Linked DNA regions of Homo sapiens: region 2 is linked to region 1. The links come from fine-mapping of genetic effects on gene expression. Tissue or cell type: whole blood. Region 1 holds a variant in brackets; the other region holds the start of a gene. All regions are shown on one strand. Distances are from middle to middle.

What was found. PIP is the estimated chance that this variant, and not a neighbour inherited with it, causes the effect.
Region 2: it holds the start of HSP90AB1, and the variant in region 1 is fine-mapped to the expression of HSP90AB1 in whole blood (INTERVAL, PIP 0.97).

Annotation. Positions count from the first base shown.
Region 1 is chr6:44,278,558-44,286,658 of GRCh38, reverse strand. It overlaps TMEM151B (transmembrane protein 151B), which reads right to left. Exons shown (of 3, transcript NM_001137560.2): 3 at 7,215-8,101. It overlaps DRC5 (dynein regulatory complex subunit 5), which reads left to right. Exons shown (of 5, transcript NM_182539.4): 3 at 127-695; 4 at 4,100-4,549; 5 at 6,269-7,925. The coding sequence ends at 6,478. Among named protein-coding and RNA genes, the nearest start is that of TMEM151B, 12 kb to the right of the region's middle. The variant C/T (reference allele first, on the strand shown) is at 4,994.
Region 2 is chr6:44,242,383-44,250,469 of GRCh38, reverse strand. It overlaps HSP90AB1 (heat shock protein 90 alpha family class B member 1), which reads right to left and starts at 3,369. Exons shown (of 12, transcript NM_007355.4): 1 at 3,275-3,369; 2 at 1,694-1,840; 3 at 887-1,093; 4 at 636-795; 5 at 316-449; 6 at 1-179. The coding sequence starts at 1,840. RefSeq lists enhancers at 2,270-2,319, 2,804-3,558, 4,313-5,067 and a silencer at 3,870-4,109.

The DNA.
Region 1 (8,101 bases):
TCTATCCCCTAAGCAGGGAAGGGTCTCTCCTTTGCCTGGTGCTCCCAGGCAGGCCCAGCCTGAGGCATCATGTTGAGGTGTCCCCCAACACTGTGACCCCCTGCGCTCCTTCCTCTGTTCCCAAAGAAAACCCTATCCTGAAGCAGATGCTCCCGGAACACCAGCAGAAGGTCCTGAACCACCTGTCCCCTGACCTACCACTGGCTGTGACCGCCAACCTGATAGACAGTGAGAACTACTGGCTCCGCTGCTGCATGCATCGCTGGCCCGTGTGCCACGTGGCCCACCATGGCGGCAGCTGGAAACGCATGTTCTTCGAGCGGCACCTGGAGAACCTGCTAAAGCACTTTATCCCAGGCACCACAGACCCTGCGGTGATCCTCGACCTGCTGCCGCTCTGCCGGAATTACGTGCGCAGGGTCCACGTCGATCAGTTCCTTCCGCCGGTGCAGCTCCCGGCCCAGCTCCGGCCGGGCGACCAGTCCGACTCAGGCAGCGAGGGAGAGATGGAGGAGCCCACCGTTGACCACTACCAACTGGGCGATCTGGTAGCTGGCCTGAGCCACCTGGAGGAGCTGGACCTGGTGTACGATGTCAAGGACTGCGGCATGAATTTCGAGTGGAATCTCTTCCTCTTCACCTACCGTGACTGCCTCTCCTTGGCAGCCGCCATCAAGGCATGCCACACCCTCAAGGTACTGTCTGCTCCCAGCCTTCCCCCCACCCCTTCTCAGCATCTCTCAGATTCCCTCTCCCCTCCTCTTCCTCCTCTATTATTGCCTTCTTCCTATTTCCTTCTCTTTCATTGGCCAAGTGTTTTTTAATGCACCCTGCACCAAGATACACGGTTCTGGGGGTGTAGAGATGAACAAGGCGCTGCTCTCCCAGTTCACCAGTTGGTTTCATTGAACAAACAGCTGCGCTCCAGGCCCTGTCCTAGGTGCTGAAGATTCAAGGATGAGCAAGATTATCATTTGTGCCCTCTGTAGCTAACAGTCTGATGGGATAAAGGCACTAATCAGCAATCATATAAACATAAAATTGATACTAGAATAGGGTTGCCAGATGTAGCAAATAGAAATACAGGACATCCAGTTAAATGTGAATTTCAGGTCCAGGCACGCTTGTAGTCTTCCAGAGACTGAGGAGGCTGAGGTAGGAGAATCCCTTGAGCCTCGGAGTTCAAGCCTGCAGTGAGCTGCAATCACACCACTGCACTCCAGCCTGGGTTACAAAATGAGACCCTGTCTCCAAAAATTTTGAATTTCAGATAAACAGCAAAGAATTTTTATAAGTATGTCCCGAATATTCCATGGGGCGTTCTTATTTATCTGAAATTTATTTTTAACTGGGCATCCTGTACTTTTTTCTGGTACCCCTGAATTGGGATGAATGCTATAAAGAAGAGATACTCTTATGAGAGATTGTAAAGGAGCATTTGACCTTGCAAGGGAAGGCTTCCCTGAACAAATGTCACTTACATAGAGATTAGAAGGAGGAGGACGAGTTACAGTCTCAGAGGGAGGAGCGTTCCAGACAGAGGGAGCAGTGCATACAGGCTCTATGGGCAGAGTGAACATGGCCAGCTCAAAGAGAAAGAGAAGACTGTGTGGCTGGCGCAGAGTGTGAGGTGGTCAGCCTTGCTGGGTGAAGGAGGCTTTGTCCAGGAGGCTATCTTTATCCTTAGGAGCTCTGGGACACCATCCAAGGGTTTTAGGCAAAAAAGTAGGTACCATTACTGGATTTCACATGTGAAAATGTCACTCCGTCTGTGAGGGAGGATGGCCTGGGCAGGGCAGCAGTGGACATGCAGATTACCTAGGAGATCACTGCCAAATCCAGGTGAGGGTGAGGGTCATTTCAGCGAGGGTAGTGTCTGTGGAGACTCAAAGGAGTGGAGAGAGTCAACACATATTTAGGCAGACATGTGTCTGGCATGCACCTGGCCACACTGGCACAGGGAGGATCTGAAGGAGAAGGAAGGAGAAGGAGGTGAGGTGCAAGACCTCTGGCTTGTGAGGCTGGATGGCTGGAGGGACCATGTGCAGAGACAGGGAATGTGGGAAGAGGATCAGTTTTGAGGGGGAAGAGTGTAAGTTTCAGTTTGAGGCATCTCAAAGAAGGGGTCATTTCGTTAGTTGGGTAGAGGGTCCGAAGCTCAGATGAGAGGTCTGAATTGAATGTGGGAATGTGTGCCATCTTCATGAAGGTGGCAGTTGCAGCCCTGGGTTTGGATGGAGTCTCACAGGGGAGAGCCAAAAGCAAGACAACAAGAGGCCTGGCATGTGGTCTCAGTGGAAGAAGAAGAGCTTGCCAGGAAGCCAGAGGGAGGAGGAAATGGGGAAACATGGCATTGTGTCACAGAGCAAGGGAGGGGTATGTTTCAAGTAGAGGGAGTGAGCAACGGGGTGGAATAGAGCTGAGGACTGGATTTAGTGAACATGGAGGTCACTGAGGGGGAGCTATTTCAGTGGAGTGGCAGGAGCAGAGGCCAGATAGCAGTGGTTTCTGGGGAGAGTGGGAAGTGAGGAATGGGTGGCTGTGATCAGCTTTTTCAAGAACTTGGCTGCGAAGGGGAAAAGGTACAGCCATAACCGATGAGAGCTTTGGGTTCCTTCAGAATAACTCACATATGTTTAAAACCAGTGTAAGGCTCCATCCAGTTGCAAGAAAGGGGATGAATGTAGAAGAGAGGCACGGGTTCATAGACCAATAAGTCAGTGCTTGGTATCAGGAAAATGACAGGTTCCCATTCAATGACTGAGAAGGCAAGAGGAGAGTTCACCTGCTGAAAGAGGGGGCTCAGCAAGGAGGCCCCTGAATTCTGAGGAGGCTGCAAAAAGCTGAAATAGTTGTTGTAGATTATAAGAGGGTATTTTGGCCAGAGAAATATAGTTAGATTGGCATGCAGCGTTACAAGCCTATTGGTGTTTCCGGTGATAGCAACCAGTCCCATCAGCTGATGTTTTCTATTTTGTCAGTTGCTTGCGCACAGGCATGCAGAAAATAGAGAGTGGGGCTGATCCAGGGTTAGGGCTTTGCCAGAGAGACGCAATGAAAAGAGAAGAGACACAAAGGACTCAGCTGGGTAAGAGGGGTATAAAAAGGAGTGAACCGAAGGGTAGAGAGAGAGAGGCCAGACACTCAGAGGTCTCAAGGGAGAGAGAGGAGTGGGACAAGCCAGCGGGAAGGTGAGGGGGAGAGGTTCCCATGGACAATATTCATACTGCCAGCCCCATCCCCTTTCCTTCATTCCTTTATCTCATCCTTTTCCTGCTTCTCCACCTCCCCACTGTCTCCCTGGTTCTTGCCCTGGCAACCTCCTTCAAAGAGGTCCTCTCCTTGCCCTGGTGGATCTTGGCTGGGAGAGGAGGATGCAGTGAGGGGCTGAGGCCTCAGGCAGGCTTGGATTCCAAACCTGTCTCAACTGCTTCAATCACTGCATTACTCTGGGGAAATAATGTAAGCCTCCATTTTCTGTCTGTAAAATGGAGAGAACTTTCTCTTCTTCATCGAGATGCTGAAGGTTAGAGATAATGGTTGTGAAAGACCCAAGCGGCCGGGCGCGGTGGCTCACGCCTGTATTCCCAGCACTTTGGGAGGCTGAGGCGGGTGGATCACGAGGTCAGGAGATCAAGACCATCCTGGCTAACACGGTAAAACCCTGTCTCTACTAAAAATACAAAAAATTAGCAGGGCGTGGTGGCGGGCACTTGTAGTCTCAGCTACTCAGGAGGCTGAGGCAGGAGAATGGTGTGAATCCGGAAGGTGGACCTTGCAGTGAGCCAAGATCACGCCACTGCACTCCAGCCTGGGTGACAGAGCGAGACTCCGTCTCAAAAAAAAAAAAAAAAAAAAAGATAAAAAAGGAAGACCCAAGCAGCATACCCAGCATGTAGTAATTGCTCAATAAACAGTGATCTTTCCTCCCTGCTACCTGCCACCAATTCTACACTACTCTGCCATGCTGGTAGGCCTGGCCCCCTCCAAGACCCAGCCAGGTGGCCAACACTAGGTGAGCCAAGTTTGCCAAAGATCTAGGTGGGCAGGCTGATTATCCCTGGCTGGCAGTTGCTGTAGACCCTCTGCCTGCCCACAGATCTTCAAGCTGACCCGAAGCAAGGTGGATGATGACAAGGCACGCATCATAATTCGAAGCCTTCTGGACCACCCAGTCCTCGAGGAGCTGGACTTGTCACAAAACCTCATTGGAGACCGTGGTGCACGAGGTGCTGCCAAGCTGCTGAGCCACAGCCGCCTGCGTGTGCTCAACCTGGCTAACAACCAGGTGCGTGCACCCGGTGCCCAGTCCCTGGCTCACGCTCTGGCACACAACACCAACCTCATTTCCCTCAACCTACGTCTCAACTGCATCGAGGATGAGGGTGGCCAGGCTCTTGCCCATGCCTTGCAGACCAACAAGTGCCTCACCACGCTGCACCTCGGTGGCAATGAGCTGTCTGAGCCCACCGCCACACTCCTGTCACAGGTGCTCGCCATCAACACCACACTCACCAGCATCAACCTGTCCTGCAACCACATCGGGCTGGTGAGCCACCTATTCTGGGCTTGTGAGGGTGGGTGTGGAATCCAACTGCCAGGGGTACTTGTGGGATAATTGTGAAGATCACAGAGTTTACATACTACATACTGCATCAAGTATGCACACATACTGTGTATCCCAATGATTATTTTTCCTTTAATCCTTACAGTTACCTAAGTAACTGTATATTAACCCTAAGCATATTTAACCCTAAATATATTTAAGTATATAACTAAGTATATTTAACCCTACTTTCTAGATGGAAAACTAAGTTTCAGAGAGGATAGTGAGTTGCCCAAGGGCATCAAGTCAGTAGCAAGTGGCAAGGCTACGATTCAAACCCAAGATTGATTGAAAGCCTGAGTCCTTTCTAATAGACTGTGTCTCTAAAACTTTCTTAACCAAGTCTGAGAGTAAGAAATGCAATTTACGACCAGGCACAGTGGCTCA[C/T]GCCTGTAATCCCAGCACTTTGGGAGGCTGAGGTGGGTAGATCACCTGAGGCCAGGAGTTCGAGACCAGTCTGGCCAACATGGTGAAACCCCATATCTACTAAAAATACAAAAATCAGCCCAATGTGGTGGCATGCACCTGTAACCCCAGCTACTTGGGAGCCTGAGGCAGGAGAATTGCTTGAACCCAGGAGGCGGAGATTGCAGTGAGCTGAGATCGTGCCCCTGCACTCCAGCCTGGGTGACAGTGCGAGACTCCGTCTCAAAAAAAAAATGCAATTTACATGAACACTGACATAAACATAATATTGAAATTTATGACGTGATATATGCTGATATTTTCCTTTACATTCCATTCTATTGTATTTTTTAAAATGCTTCTGTGACCCATTAAATTGACTTTGCAACACACTACTGGGTCACAACCACAGAATGGTAGCATTCTGCCTCCCAACGTGAAATTCTTTCACATTGGGGCTAGCCCACCCAGCCCAGCAGGGGTTGGAGCTGTGATGACCATTGAGCAGGGCCCTCCATTAGGTCACTGAACCCTCTACTAAACCTCCCCATGAGAACAGCCTTGCTCACCTACACAGGCACATACACGCACACACACGTGCATGCGCGCACACACACACACACACAGTTTCTAGAGGGGGTGCTGTTGACTGCAAGTAATAAAAAGCTTAATCAGAAATGGCTTAAGCAGGAGGAATATTCAGTGTCTCCCACAACCAGAATTAGAGGGTTGTAGGGTCGGTAAACCCCTGGGTTCAGTGCTACCCTCTGCTCTGCCCACCCCAGTCTCATGGCCAATGCCTCGCTAGTGCTTCTGTCAGTCCCAAGATGGCTGCCACAGTTCTGACATCTCATACAGGGACATGCCCAGAGGCAGAAACCGGGAGAACACCTGCTCCCTTTTCTTCTCTTTTTGGAATGAGGAGAAGCTTCCCAGAAGCCACCCTCTCTCAGCTTCCCCCTCACATCTCATTAGATTTGTCCCACATGCCCATGGCTGAACCAAAGGAATGGAATTATCTTCATTGCCAGAGATTCATGTTTTTCAAACTAGTAGGGTTGAGATGTCAATTTAGTGGGTATTGGCTACCATTTTTCAAATGGAAAAGAACAGAATATGTCATCATGCGTCACAAATAGGTTAAGTATTGTTTTGTGAAACTTTTGTTTTAGTCACATCTACCTGAAAATGTGTAGTATGTGTGTCAGATCCTGGGTAGTGATGTAAATGACCCCTTCCTTTGCACCCTTCTCCCAGGACGGTGGGAAGCAGCTCCTGGAAGGCATGTCAGACAACAAGACCCTCCTGGAATTTGACTTGCGCCTGTCAGATGTGGCCCAGGAAAGCGAGTACCTCATTGGCCAGGCCCTCTACGCAAACCGAGAAGCAGCCCGCCAGCGGGCCCTGAATCCCAGCCACTTCATGTCAACCATAACTGCCAATGGCCCTGAGAACTCTGTGGGATAAAATGACCTGACTTGGATCATGGCCCCAGCCCCATCCCTCATTTCATACCCCTGCCATGCCTGCTGCAGAGTATCACACTGGTTCAGAGGGAGCGGGGAGGGGGACTGTGAATAACCTTGGAGTGATCAAGGGTTGTATGGATGGAGACATGAGGCAGGGAAGGGAGCCTGGCATGGGGGAAGAAAGGGTATGCAGTAGGGACCCAGCCTTTGTGCCCAGGGAAAGGATATTACTGGACACCCACAAATGACCAACTTCTTTCAGGAACAGGGAAGTCAGAGAGGTGTCTGAGGGACTGTGCCTGCCAGATTCTCCCGTTGGGGCTGCCTGCCTCCCTGACTCCCCACCATTTTCTTCTCTACCAAACAGATCCTTGATCTTCAAACACACACACACACACACACACACACACACACACACACACACACACACCCTCTGGCTACAGCAGGGCTATGCCTGGCTCTCTCTGCCACCCTCATCCCTGTAGATGCATTTCCCTGTTGCTTGACTCTGCTTTAAGTGATCCAGTTCTACAGGCCACGCCATCCCCTAGTTCCCCAACTCCCAACCTGGGAAGGGGACAATGAGCTGACACCAGGGGCTCAGACCCAGTGGACTCCTCTGGGGAGGCAACTGTAGATGACAACTTCCAGGGAAGGATGACACAATCCCTGCCACCCACCCCAGAGAGCTTCCCTGGGAGGGAGGGAAAGAAGTGCCACACTGGGACAGGAAGTCAGTGAGTCATCCACGACTTTATTATCCACCAGTTTGATTTGTACAATCTTTGCGCTTAAATCCACGACAAAAAGGCCACAGTGTGATGCACCCAATTGACAGAGACCTGTCTTCTCCCCAGCCAGGCCCAGCCCACCCCACAAGCCCTTGTCCCCAGGACACATGGAGCCTTCCAGGTGCCCTACATGAGTCCCCCATCACTCTGTAGCTGTCCACCCTGGGGCCACACCTACAGGAATCACATCAGCCCCCAGGGCCACAAGAGACCTAGCTGACTGATTCAGGCTGAGCGCCATTGCCCATCCTCCTTGGGCTGATTCATTGGCCCAGAGCCTCCAGAACTGTGTCCCCAAAGGGCAGGTCATGGGCTACAACCCCAGTCCAGGAGTGCCTGCTCTCCAGGGACTCCTTCCGCTAAGCAGGCGCTGAGCAGAGCACCAAAGGGGGCTTGGGAGTGACTGCATGTGTGTGCCTGTCTAGGCAACCTAGAGTCTGTCTGTGCCTGACACCCTCTGACAGTTCCGGAGTGCAAACGTGTAGGTGTGAGGGTGTGTGTGTGTGTGTGTGTGTGTATAGCCACAGCTGCTAGCAGAAGTTCTAATTAGAGAAACAAGAACATTCAGTGTAAAGTTTAATTTTAGAGATTAATTAATTTTCTGGTTTTCATTTTCCCTGGCAATCAGTAAAGCTACCAAGAAAATAGACCAAAGAATTGGTTTCTCTCTAAGTCTGTGCATGTGTGGGAGATGAGGCTGTCTGAGACGACCTAGGCAGAAATGGTCAATACAGGCAAAAATAATAATAGAGGTCCCCCTTCCCCTCTTGTGAGACCAGGCTCTGTCTCAGGAACAGGCCTGAGGGAGGAGGAGCCACGTTCCTCCTTCC
Region 2 (8,087 bases), 36 kb after region 1:
TATTTCTCTTTGATCTTCTTAGTTTTCTTCTTCTTATCCTTACCGCTGTCATCCTCCTCATCTGAACCCACATCTTCGATCTTGGGTTTTTCTTCATCATCTTTATCTTCCTCTTCTTTCTCACCTTTCTCTTCCTCTGCCTCATCATCACTAATTTCCTTCTCTCGTTCCTTCTCCAACTAAGTAACAAAAACAGAAGTTAGCCTTGGAGTACAAAACACTACCAGGGAAAGCAAAAGCCAGGGACAATGAGATTCTCCAGAACAGGAAACATCCTGCACGTTAAGTGTAAAAGATTTAAAAGTCCATACTCACATAAAGGGTGATGGGATAGCCTATGAACTGAGAATGCTTCTTCACTACTTCTTTGACCCGCCTCTCTTCTAGGTACTCTGTCTGATCTTCTTTAAGATGGAGGATCACTTTGGTACCCCTGCCAATGGGCTCACCTAGAAGAGTCAATTACAAGCGTGTAACAGGGTAAAAAGTATATGCAGTTGAGACCAGCAATTAGTAAGTATCAGCAGAACTGCTGTGAAGAACTGCTTTACAGACAGGATGCCCAAAATTTCTGCTACTGGTGTGAGCCCAGAAAATCCTAACCCAACTACCTTGTAACAGAAAAGCTAACTTACCATGGTCAGCACGCACAGTGAAGGAACCTCCAGCAGAAGACTCCCAAGCATACTGTTCATCATCGTTGTGCTTTGTGATCACAACCACTTTCTCTGCCACCAAGTAGGCAGAATAAAAGCCAACACCAAACTGCCCAATCATGGAGATGTCTGCACCAGCCTGCCAACAAGTTTAAAGTCAATCACAAGTTTTAAAGAAGCAAAAAACCAAAGAACACAGATAAGTATGAATGCCTACAGAACTGCAATACCTGAAGAGCCTCCATGAATGCTTTAGTACCAGACTTGGCAATGGTTCCCAAATTATTTATGAGATCAGCTTTGGTCATGCCAATGCCTGTGTCTACCAAAGTCAGGGTACGTTCCTGAGGGTTGGGGATGATGTCAATTTTCAGCTCTTTACCACTGTCCAACTTCGAAGGGTCTGTCAGGCTCTCATAGCGAATCTTGTCCAAGGCCTGGAAATACAAACAGCAACTTACTTTTGCTCTTTCCAAGACAGACTCTTGCTCTGTTGCCCAAGCTACAGTGCAGTGGCAAGGATGACAGCTCACTGCAGCCTTGACCTCCCAGGTTCGAGCCATCCTCCCAACCCCAGCTTCCCAAGTAGCTGGGACTACAGGCACATGCCACCGTGCCCAACTAATATTTAATTTTTTGCAGAGACAAGGTCTCGCGGTTGCCCAGGCTGCCCTCGAAATCCTAGGCTCAAGTGATCCTCCTGCCTTGGCATTACAGGTGTGAGCCAACACGCTCAGCCACTTTTGCTTTCTTAAAGCCCGTATCTTCAAAGAAAATCTTGGTTTACCTCTCTCAGCCTCAAATCTGATTGCCCCCTATCTTGAGGCTTTAGAACCAGTTAGTTCCATGAGCCCACTTATTCTGGACATAGTCCCTTCCAAGTTCAAGATGGCCAGAGTAAAACCCATCTTTTTGGAATAGCTGCAAGTTTACCCCCTTCAATAGTAGTCCCCAACAAAGGCCAAACCACTCCTTTCCCCTCCTTCTAGAGTATCAAAAAAAAAAACCATGCCAAATGTGGAAACCAGAGCACCTACATCAGAAGCATTAGAGATCAACTCCCGAAGGAAAATCTCCTTGTTGGAATAGAAGGTATTGATGATGAGGGACATGAGTTGGGCAATTTCTGCCTGAAAGGCAAAAGTCTCCACCTCCTCCTCTCCATGGTGCACTTCCTCAGGCATCTAAAATAAAAATCTCATTAATTACAAAAGAACACTAAGGCCCCATGTTTAAAAATCCTAAAGGTCATATCATTTGTTAGGACCTTAGACAGTGAGTTCAGACTGGTTTAACCGGAGTACTATCCCTTCCCAAGACTAAAAATGCATTCTCTTAAAGATCTCAGACTACACACTAAGTGGGAGGCCTGAAAATTCAGAAGGAAAAAGAAAATAAGCTAAATATTCTTCAACCAAATGTCACAGAACCCACCTACTTAAAGAATGGTGACCAGCAGCCTCAGCATCATCTGGTAGTATGGCAGAAAAATCATAATGTTGGTCCAACCCAGGTATCTAGAGATCCCAAGTAATCCTTACACAAATTTAAATGTGAAAATCACTACCTACAGTTCTTTATTTGGGGGAGATCAAAGTGACTAGTTTAAGATAAAAATGGCACTAACTTTAAACTGCTCCCCCTGAGGTGTCAGTTCCTAAGACCAGTCCAAGGGCGGGACACTCCTGCCCCATAGGGCAGGGAGGAATAACCTGGGATCCATACGATACCCACCGGAGGAGCAATTAAATCCGGACAAAGAATTCTTAAGCCAAAAGCTCCACCACGACCCTTTCACAGCACAAAATTACAGAACAGGACCAAACCCAAGAAAGATGGTGGCCGTAGCCACCAGGCCGACACTCGTCACTGCCGGACATGCGTCGGCCAGGACCACGCGAGGAGGGGGCGCCGCAGTGCACCCTCCCTCGCCCCAGCATCCGGGCACTGGGGCGGGGCGCCAGAATCCAGAAGCTTCCAGAACAATCTCAGCTCTCGAGGAAGGGCGGAGGAAGGAGCCCATGAATCTTCCAGAACCTGCTCCCCTCCCCGCCCCTCCTCCACCGGGACTGCAAGAAAGATCTGGAAGGAGGGAGTATCGGGTGCTGGAGACCGAAAGCTCTCTTCCCACACCGTCAACCCTCCCTCACAGAAACAAAGCACCCAAGAAGGCTTTAACAACGCGTCCGATAAGAGAGGTGACAAAGCCAGTCCCACAAGGCCGTGCTGAGTCACCCGAGCGGGCACCCCCGCCACCCTGCGGTCCCCCTCCGACGCCCCGTAGCCGCGTCCGGAAGTGGAGGGGCAAAAATGGCAGCGTCCCGGGCCGCGCGGCCACCACGTGCAGCTGCCAGCCGCCCACTGCCCCAACCCCACAGCCCACCTCGCTACGGCCAGCAGGCGCCGAGAGAAAGCCCCACCCCCCAAACACACTAGAGAAAACCGAGGAGGACTCAAAAAACCTCACCCACCACTACCCTCACCCTATAAAAATCCAGAGCGTTATCCACAAGCCACCCCGACATCTAGACTAAGGCTCCCTAAAGGACAGAAAAAAACAAAAACAACACGAATACAGCACTAAAGGGAAAGAAGCCTAGCGGAGATCTCAGCCTTACCTTGAAAAGAAAAGGATTATACGTAATAGTGAGCAACGTAGGCTTGCTTTCCGATACCCAGACAGTCCCAACACTGCGCCGGAGTGACTCGAGAGAGCTACTGCGTGCCCCAAGTCGCCCTATATAAGGCGAAGCACAGTACAGCCGCCCTCCTGTAGATCCCTCCGCCTTAAAGGAGTATGATTGTCAACCCCGCACCTGCCGCCACCAGCCCACCTTGACGTCATGGTCCGAAAAAAAGAGGGGGCGGGGAAGAACCCAAGCAACGGATCCGCCCACACATTTGCTTGTGATCACAGCCCCATAGTTTCACGTCTAGGACATGACTCCATCAAGAGCGGGGATGAGGAGTGCTCATTTGGCATAAACGGTGTCTCTACGGGCGAGGAACCCACTGACCTCCCTAAACACTTGTGGGGCAGGCGTCCCCACACCCAAGGGCGGGACTGGGGGGGACACCGAAAAAGAGCGGAGGCAGCTAACCACGCGGACCACCGCTCCCAGACCCAATCTTCTTCCTAGCATCTGCCCTACACATCTCGCGTCCCGACAGAGGGACTGGCATTCGGGACCCAACCTTGGGTAGCCCCAGATCCCGACTCTCGCAGGAGTAGAGGAAGGGCGGAGGGTTCGCGCTGAGGGGCAGCTCAGCGTAGGGGGAGGGCGCCGGCCGGGGCTGGCGGGGACTCTTTGCCGACATGCGGCGGAAGGCGCGGCGGCGGCACTGCGGCATTTCCAGCAGTTTCCAGGCCTGTCTCGGCGGTCCCGCCCCCTCCCCGCGAGGCTCCGCCTCTCCGGCTGCGGCCGGGGCAGGGTTTTTGCAGCGACCCCACCCGGCGACCCGCTCTGACCTGTCCGAGAGACGCGGGTACCAGCCCAATCCTCAGGGATGGGATGGAGGGTTGGGGAGGGATCGGCTGACCCCTCCTTCCCCGCGTCAATCACACAACACCCAGGCACCTGGGGCGGCTCTGCGGGCGTACACTTTTGCAGACTGAGAGTGGAGTACCTGCGGGGGGGACCCCCCTCTAGCCCCTGCGGCCGCCACGTACACGGAGCACGGGGACATGCGCCCTCCCTACGCAGGCACGTCAAGCCCTTTCTCAAGCTGGTTCGCTTTTTTTCCGCCCACTTCGCTCCTGCAGCCATTTGGACCTGGGAAGGAGGGAGTCTCTGGGAACCAGTGCAGGGCAGCCGGAGCTCTTGGAGGCCGCGTGACGATGCCGGCCACAGAGCGGCTGGCCAAGTTGTTCCCCTTCAGCCTTGGCACCAGAGCCCCTAGGCCATGCCCCTGGCCAGTGAGCTGCCGTGTCTGGCCTGGCTCAGCCGTTTTGCCTGCCCTCCAGTTGGCAAGCTGTCCTTGCCTTTCCAAGGCCTCATCCGAAAGCCTGCTGGACCCACAACCCCTCCAGGAGAGAATAGCCACTCCCTGCTCTGTGCCCTGTAGATGTCCATCTGCTCCCCTTCCTGGCCCACCCCTGGGATGCTTGGGAAGAGTTTCCCCACAGCCACCCACATCGTCCTCCCTCACCAGCCCTGTTGTTACCCAGTCTACGATTCGTTAACAAGTTTTGTTCATGTGTTGAATACCAAAGAACAAAGGGTGTCCCTTGCTTTCCTCTTCTTTGTCCCTGTCCACTTCGCCATGCCTGCCATCACCATCCCGATTGGATATCCTTTCTCCCTTTCATTATGGTCTGCAAAAAGCCTATGGCTGGGAGAAGTCTATAAGAAGGGGCGTTGGGTGCTCTATTCCTGACCAAAACCGCAAACCAGTGGGAGCGTGATCCCTTAACGTGTCCTCTCCTTCTAAGCAGAGCTCATTAAAAATCTGCTCCCCAGTTCACAGAGAGCATTCACAAACTCTCACTCTCCTGTGAGCGGATGAAAGTCAGTGTGCACATTCTGTCAACAGGGAAGTGGCTTCAGTGACTCCCAAGGCCCGTCTACTCAGAGTCCTTGCTGCACTAGCTCCCTTTCTGCTCCAGAAATGGAGCAGGGATGTGATCTCACCCCTAGGACCTAAATCCAAAGCAGGAATCACTCCTGTGGATGGGCTTCCCCTGAGCTGGATCCTTTCTGTGTCAAGACTCGACGGCTTCCTGAAGACTTTCTAAATGGGAAAATCTCAAATGTTACACCAGCATAGAAATTCCACTTTCTCTGCTGGGCACAGTGGCTCATACCTGTAATCCCAGCACTTTGGAAGGCCGAGGTGGGTGGATCACCCGAGGTCAGTAGTTCACAACCAGCCTGGCCAACATGGTGAAAAACCTCGTCTCTACTAAAAATTAGCTGGGCGTGGTGGCACATGCCTGTAATCCCAGCTACTTGGGAGGCTGAGGCAGGAAGATTGCTTGAACTCTGGAGGCAGAGGCTGCAGTGAGCTGAGACCATGCCATTGCACTCCAGCCTGGGCAACAAAAGAGAAACTCCGTCTCAAAAAAAAAAAAAAAAAAAAAAGGGGGCTGGGCGCGGTGGCTCATGCCTGTAATTCCAGCACTTTGGGAGGCCGAGTCCAGCGGATCACCAGGTCAGGAGTTCAAGACCAGCCTGGCCACTCTGGTGAAACCTTGTCTCTACTAAAAATACAAAAATTAGCCGGGCGTGGTAGCGCGCCTATAGTCCCCGCTACTTGGGAGGCTGAAGCAGGAGAATCACTTGAACCCGGGCGGCAGAGGTTGCCGTGAGCCGAGATCACGCCACTGCACTCCAGCCTGAGCGACACAGTGAGACTCTGTCTCAAAAAAGAAAAAAAAAAAAGAAATTCCACTTTCTCTTCCAGGAAGCCTTTCAGGAGACCGCCTACCTGTGTCCACAAGCTCCATCGTTTTCCACTCATTGACACTCACTAAGCCTCCACTGTGTGGAGATCCTGGGGATGCAGAGATGCATACACAGGACTGGGAGCCCTTAACCCACTGGAGGCTGCAGCAGCCAAGTGTGAACCATAGGAGGATGGGAGAAGCCGCAGAGGCCCTCAGCTCAGCTTGGGAAAGGGAGCAGTCTTAGGACCATGCCTAGCCAGGCCATGACATGGAAAGCATGGAAAGGAACAGAGCCCCATTAGAGGAACCATAGCTCAGGAACCCCAAAGGGAAGCACAAGGAGTTGAAAGTAGCCCTGCAGATGGGGGTTAGGTCGCAGAGGGCTGCAAATGCCACTGGTAAGAAGTCCTGATCTTAAGAGTGAGAGAAGTGAAGGTTATAAAAGACAGGCTTAAAACTATGTCTTCCAGACTGGGCACGGGTGGCTCACGCCTGTAATCCCAGACCTTTGGGAGGCCAAGGCGGGCGGATCACCTGAGGTCAGGAGTTTTGAGACCAGCCTGACCAACATGGAGAAACCCCGTCTCTACTAAAAATACAAAATTAGCTGGGTGTGGTGGCACATGCCTGTAATTCCAGCTACTCAGGAGGCTGAGGCAGGAGAATCGCTTGAACCCAGGAGGTGGAGGTTGCGGTGAGCCATGATCGCGCTATTGCACTCCAGCCTGGGCAATAAGAGCAAGATTCCGTCTCAGAAAACAAAAACAAAACAAAAAAAAACTACACCGTCCGAAGCCTTATTCCCAGCCTTGGAACCACTGATGTTCCCCAGATCCCTTTTATTCCTCCATGAAACCTCCTAGGCCCAGCCCAACCTTCTGCTGTCGGAGGGTGGCCAGCTAAAGCAGGGATTAACAACCCAAGGTCTGCAGCTGGTGGGCCTGCTGCTTGTTTTTTGAATGGCCTGTGGGCTAAGAAGGGTTTTTACACTTCATAATGGTTGAAAAAAAAATCAAAAGAAAGATATTATTTTGACATGGGAAAATTATATGAAATTTGAATTTCTGTTTTCATGAAGTTTTTTTTTTTTTTTTTTAGACGGAGTCTCACTCGTCTCCCAGGCTGGGGTGCAATGGCAGAATCTCAGCATACTGCGACCTCCACTTCCCGGGTTCAAGCGATTTTCCTGCCTGAGCATCCCAGGTAGCTGGGATTACAGGCGCCCGCCACCACGCCCGGCTAATTTTTGTATTTTTGGTAGAGACCGGGTTTCACCATGTCGGCCAGGCTGGTTTCGAACTCCTGACTTCAGGTGATCTGCCCGCCTCAGACTCCCAAAGTGCTGAGATTACAGTCGTGAGCCACTGCGCCTGGCCAATTTTAATGAAGTTTTGTTGAAACGTAGCCCTTGTCTTTGACTGCTTCTGTAACATAAAGTCAAAATCGATAGGTGTGACAGAGACCATAACGCTTGCAAACCCTAAGACATTTACTCTCTTGCCTTTTACAGAAAACGTTTGCAGACCCCTAAGCTACATAAAGCTCAGCAAAGTCTTGCAGGGAGCACAGAGACTCAGCCTGGACAGAGTCTCTAGGGTTCACAGAGGCCACGGAGGGGAGTTAAATAAAGCTCAGTGAACGAATAAAACAACTGAGGGTAACAGGACATCAGAGATATGAGCATGGAGAGTAGCTGTGGACCCTGAACCCCTAGAACAAGCAGCCTCTTAAGCTCAGTGCCTGCCAGGTGTGTCCCGTTACTTTCTGGGCCTTCCCAGTTCCACGAGCCTTAGCTCTCTGAATTCCTGAGGGAATACCCTGAACTGACACCCTCCAATACTAGTGAGCCTGACATTCAGATGCATTGGACAATTGGGCAGGTCTGCACAGCCAGCATGGACTCCATCTCTTTGCCTCCATTTTCACATTCCACTAGAACACAAGGGAAGTCTCTTGCATAATTTTTGCTCACTGTATTGTTAGTATTGTTATTTTTTTGATGCCATAGAAAATGGAAATTTTTGTTCATTTTCGGTTTCCCAGAG